Regions from separate parts of the Homo sapiens genome. Here region 2 is linked to region 1. The links come from fine-mapping of genetic effects on gene expression. A gene starts in region 1. The other region holds a variant in brackets. All regions are shown on one strand. Distances are from middle to middle.

Region 1 (2,902 bases):
CACCTCCCCTCCCCACCCCGCCCCCCAAAATTCCGCAGTGCCGCCAGCGCCCTCTCGCGGCCAGCCAGGAAACCTTCCAGAAACCTGCCACGTAGCCACCCGCCTGCGCCCCCACCAGGCCCGCCGGCCCAGGGTGGGAGGGGGCGGCCTGGGGGGGCTTGACTCTGACAAAGGAAATGGCAAAAGGCGATTTGACCAAAAGTCCAAGACTGCAACATGTCAGGATTTTCGAGCGACCACCACGCAACGCTCTGAAGACCCCCGCGGCACCCCATCCCCAGCTCCCAGCGTCCAGACCCCAGCAACACACCCCCTTTTCTGCATTTCTCTCCTCCCTCTTCCCAGACCCAAGGACACGGCCTTCTCTCCTCCCCAACCCACCCCCTGCATCTATTCTCCCAGTGCCCCCAATCCCACGACCCCCCTTCGGCAAGGACTGATCCTAGGGGGCTACTGGCAGGTTTGCACTTGGGCGCCATCTCTCTCCACTGTGAAAGTGGCTGATCAGGGCAGAACCAGATGATATCGGGTAGAAATTTTACTCCACATTTTGCCTGGGGTCCACACTGCACTAAACCTGTGTATTTGGATTCGGAAAACCTCGCGAAGAGGAACCTCCACTCCTCCCGCCCACGATCCACCAAAAACCTGGCCAACAGCTGGCGAGGCAAATATGCCCGGGAGACCCTTCTATTCGGGTGCTTCCCCCCCTAATTCATGGGGCACGCAGAAGGCATCGCCGCCATATCTCCCACTATTAACGCGATTCTAGAGGCGGCTTCTAATACAGGAAATCCGGGGTTCGCCCCCCAGTGACTGCCGTATACCCGAATCCAAGAGGAGTTCCATCTGATTCCTCCCGCTCCTCTGAACTGAAGTCCCTACCACCCAGCCCACCCTTAAGGACTGGACCCTCCAGAGAGGAGCCCTGACTTCCCCCCAGGGAAATGTGCCTCAAGATTTTCTTTCTGACAAATTTTGTTGCGGACGCTCGGGGACCAGGCGAAGTGGCCGCCTCCAGCAGCAGGACCCAGGATCAGGCAGGCTCTCGGCATGTCCAGGAGGACAGAGCCCATCCCAGAAGCGGATGCCGTCTTCCTTTTGCACATCCTTTGCGGCAAGGATGGCCAACCACTCACCGGGTGAGGGATCCTCTCGTGGGCGCCCCAGCTCTCCTGAGGAGCCGCCGCCAAGGCCAGCGAGCCAAGGCGCGCTCCCTCTCTGCTCTCCGCCGTCTGCGCTAGGGGCTGGCTGGGTGGGGTTTATATGGAGGCGCAGAAGGGGTGGTCTCTGACGTCAGCGCATTCTGCTGCAATGCGCTCATTTCTCTAAAAGTGATTGGCCGGAAAAATGAGCCCCCCAGATTCTATGACAAATTGCTCTAGCCGCACCCAGATTGCAGCAAAGAAGGGAGGAAAAAATTCTGCCGCAGTGCCCCTGGCCGCCATGACCAACACCCTGTGGTCGCGGGTGCTTTTTCCCTGCGTGAGCCCGGCTCGCCAGGCAGGGTGAATTCAGGCACAATGTGTGGGGGGAATCGCCCCGATGGCTGGCCGTCCTCAGGCGGCCGATGGCCAAGGTGGGGCTGTCGGGGCGCAGATCCCACACCTGGCGGTTTCGGAACATCCATCGGAGGATGCGGGCTTAGCGAAAGAAAATCATGCTTTCTCTTATTGTTCAGGAAAATAAAATGCCCGGGCGACATAACTGGTTCCCAGATGTAAGCCAGAGGCTGTCACCCCCTCCCAGCCCACCCGTGCGTTTCTGACTGGTTCTCTTTGACATGGGAGACAGAGCTCCGCGTCTCCGAGTCAGAAAACCCTGGCTGTGGAGTCCCGGGCTCTGCCGCTTACAACTCATGTTCGCGGAACCCGCTATGCCCCTTCCTCTTCCACTGGGTCCGCTTCCTCCACCTTAACCAGGGGTACCCCCCACCACACACACCAGGGTTGTAATAAGAATCCAGACAGGAGCCGTGCCCTCTAAGGAAAGTACTTTTAGAGGGCGGACTGTGTCCCATGTGGAGATGCCTGAGCTACCCCTCAAAGTTGGGGTGATCCCCACACACATGCCCTTTGAAAGAGCCCCAGCGCCCCGAAAAACAGGCAGCGACACATGTTGCGCCGAGCCCTGCCGCGGCCTCGGCTCCGGAGCTGGCACATGGGAGTTAATCCCTAACAGGTGGGAGCCCTCGGCAGCTCTGCCCGGCTCTGAGTGGCAGAGCGTGCAGGGCCGTCAATCAAATGTCCTCTCGCAAAGGTCAAAATGCTGTTGAAAGGGACCGAGGATCTATCTTAGGGTGACAGGTGGGTGGCAGCCAGGAGGACAAGGATGGAGTGCTCGGTGACAGAAAGCAGGTGAGGATGAGCAAGGGGCCCCAAAGAGGACAGCAGAGAGGCCCCGCCGAGGGCATCAAGTCAGAATCGCTCCCCCGCACTTCTTTGGGGGGTTTAAGCGGCGTCAGAGGGAGCCCCCCATGCCCAACGATCCCACAAGGTGACTGTAAAGCAGACGGGAGATTCCAGGGCTGAAAAGAAGGGAGAAAGGCTATTTCTACGTCCACAGCTAATGACTAGGGAGGTGAACATTGACCGTCAGGTCACTAGAGGCGCCGAGCCTTGGGACGGCGTGTGGGGGGCTCGTTTTTTCATAAACAGGCGCACTGTTGGGGAGATAGAGACGTGGGACGTTGGGGTCCTCATGGGGCGCTGCTTTAATATGTCAGGTAACACGAAGGAGAAAGAAAACACCCCCTTTACAGCCTGTGGAGCTTGCCAGGAGCCCCAGGGACTAGAGCCCCGGAAGCAGGCCTTGCACAGCAGAAACGCCCGCACCAGCCACAGACGTCAAGAACGCTTCAAAAAATCATGGCTCCGAGCACCCGCGTCAACAGGAGAACGTT
Region 2 (2,902 bases), 110 kb after region 1:
CTGGTATTGACTGAGCTCCTACTGGGTGCCGAGGCTCGGCGGGGTCCCTGGAAGGAGGGTGCAATGATGGATTTGAAGGTGGTTTCTCATCTCAGAGAGTTCAAGTGCGGACCCAGTGCTTAGACACCCTCTGAGATGCAGGGTTGTGGATACTGGGACTGGCCACACATGGGAAGGGCGATCATGCATCTCTCAGAGGGTTAGTCCTCAGCTGTGTGTGCAGAGTACACAGAAGTTCTCCAGGAGGGTATGGGGAGGCCCTTCCAGGCAGAGAGAGCTGTACAGGCACAGATGTGTGAACGAGACATGAGTGTGTGTATGCATGCACATGAGATGGCGAGGAAGTGTTGGCTGTTCTGTTAGTGAGGGCAAAGTTAGCATGGTGAAGAATGAGGCAGAATGTTGCAAAACTTTCAACATTTCGGACATAAATCTCTTAACTATTCTCCAACATTCTGCAGCCTCCTTTGCCCTGGCAAACAGTCCACGGAACAAGAAGCCCTCTTTTGTCATACCAGAGTCAACCTTCGCACATGTCATGCCCAGACTTGATGCTAAGTCTTGGGAATCAGGCTGGGCCACCCGACCCTTCCCATCCAGTGAGGCACCAGCCCCCACCACCTACCTCCCCAGTAGGGCCCAGCTCGTGGAGACCTTCAGAGGCACAGGCAACACACCCTGTGATGACGTATAAAGAGGATACTTCCTTTAGCCACAGAAGAAATCCTTTTCTCAAGCCTGGATCCCCTGGGGAGAGCCCTCATCCCAGCCCCTGCTTAAGAGTCTGTGGGGTCACTGTGGCGGAATCATAACCTCACTGCGCGCTGAGCCTGTGAAAGGGAGGATGAGCGGCGCGGCACAGCCCTCCACACCTGTTCGCAGGCAGCTCTGTCAAGTTTAGGGACGTGAAAACACACAGCTCTCGAGGAATTTAAGATGTTCCCGTACTATATTTATTCTCTTATTTGTAAGGAAGCATTAGCATTTTCATTCAATTATATTTTTTAAAAAAAAGATTTTGGTATCCTACTGTGTTCCAGGCGCTAGGGATTTCCTGCGAAGGAAGACATTGCCCAGTCCCCAAGGAGGGGGCAGGCACAGGTGGGAGGTGAGAGGGACAGAGGTTTGTTCCTGTCTCACCTCCTCCTCCAAGGCCTTTCCCCCAATCCCATGCCTGCCAAGTCCCCTGGCTCCCACCCACTCACCCGCCCACCGAGGGTCCTGGCCCTCCCAGCCACCCTGGGCATCATCTCAGCCCTGAACACGTCTTCCTGCCTGGTGTTAATGGATTTTGCACGTGTGTCTGACCCCAGCAAGGCCAGATGCTTCTTGCTCAGCCAGGCACCCCGCAGCCAGAGGCCTGCGGCGCTGCCCTCGAGGTGTTTATGGATTAAGTGAATTAATGAATAAATGAATGAGGCACAAAGTGTTCTCTGAAGGTTACCATGGGCCCCTCGGAAAGATCCTGTGTCCTAGCAACTGTCCACGGCCTGGTGGCCCTCCCCAACCACCCGTC[C/GTCC]TCTTGCCACCTCTGATCTCTGGGTTCCAGGGGGTTACTGACCCCCTTGGACTTGCAAACAGGAGAGCCCTCAGGGTTGCAGCGATGCCTCCACCTGGTTCTTTCCCCACCAGAGCCCTCAGTTCCTTCACTAGGAATGTGGGGAGTAGCTGTGTCGGGACCATCTCCAGCACCCCCTGCTGCCACCTGCCCCTGCCCACCACCCGCAAGCACCTGGTTCCTCTGAGACGCTCTCCATGAGCCTGTTCCTATGGCAACACTGCACCTCCAGAGGCCCAAGCTGGCTGTCTGCAGCCAGGATCCAGCTAGGGACGGAGCGCAGGGGATGCCCAGTGTGAGTGGAACCCCATTCCCCTCACCCCCTCACCTCCTCACCCCACCCGGGGTTGCTTAGTACCCAAATTCAAGTTTGCTCTGTTTGTAATGAGCCTTAGTTTGATCCCTGCCCAGGTGTGTGTGTTTCTCCTCCCCCTCTAGCAGTGGGGGCTCTCCTCTCAGCCAGAGAGCTGGATGCTGGAGCGCAGAGAGGCTGAGCAATTCTCCATGGGTCACAGAGCAAGGAATTGGCAGAGCAAGACTAGAATGTTGGGGAGTGGTGCCCAGGCGGGAGGACTATAAAAGTTGACCATAAAATGTCCTTTGAGGAACCCTCAGATTCCTTCATTTAAATGGGTCTCTCCAAGGTCTGGCCAAAAAGCCCACAGACTGAAAACAGAAGAAACCGCGTCACAAGAATAGAGGTCCAGTTGGAGCCCAGCAGGGGCTGTCACTTCACTGCTTCAGAGAATTTGGGGAAACAGCAGGACTGTCTCCTGGGCTGGTCACGTCCTCTCCCCACCTTCATTTTCTCCTTCCTTCCTTCTCCCTGCACCGGATGCTGGTCTGCCAGTCTGCCTGCAGATGTGCACACTAAGGTCCAGCTCTCTCTACCTTCATCGCTCCAGAGCTGGGGCCGGGGTTAGAGCCCCACAGCCTCCCAGGTGTCCCCTCTGGAGGTCTCTCTGAAACGAGCATCTCCCATTTGTCCCCCTCAAACCTCCTCCAGGGCCTCCGCCACCCTGCAGTTGGCCCAGCGAGTGAGGGCTTAGACTCCTGGCTCCTATAGCTTTGCCCTTTCTCTGTGCAAATGGGCCCCAAGCTCCAGGCACTGTCACTCCCCAGTCGCTCTCCAGTCCATCTCCATAGCCCCATTCTTTTCACCGCCACCCTGGTCCAAGCCTCTCTCCCTAATGGCTGTATCAACCCTGGGCCTGCCTGTCACCCCCATCCTCTCGGCTACAGGCCAGGGGTCAGAGGGAGGTTTTCTAGACGCACCACTATCCCGAGCAACCTGCTACTTAAACCCTTCGCAGAAGGAAAAGAGAGAGAAAGGGGGCAGGAAAGAAG

Which allele goes with the higher level. Positions count from the first base shown, and alleles are read on the strand shown. Sizes are in standard deviations (SD) of each study's normalised expression.
For the expression in adrenal gland of the gene that starts at base 1,239 in region 1, C is the high allele of the variant in region 2 and GTCC is the other (small effect, 0.29 SD a copy in GTEx).

The links. PIP is the estimated chance that this variant, and not a neighbour inherited with it, causes the effect. A credible set is the group of variants that fine-mapping cannot tell apart.
Region 2: its variant is the best candidate, but not a certain one, in a credible set for the expression of MEG3 in adrenal gland (GTEx, PIP 0.84).

The regions. Positions count from the first base shown.
Region 1 is chr14:100,824,455-100,827,356 of GRCh38, reverse strand. It overlaps MEG3 (maternally expressed 3), which reads right to left and starts at 1,239. Exons shown (of 10, transcript NR_190993.1): 1 at 1,140-1,239.
Region 2 is chr14:100,718,610-100,721,511 of GRCh38, reverse strand. No RefSeq gene overlaps it. Among named protein-coding and RNA genes, the nearest start is that of DLK1, 6.8 kb to the left of the region's middle. The variant C/GTCC (reference allele first, on the strand shown) is at 1,517.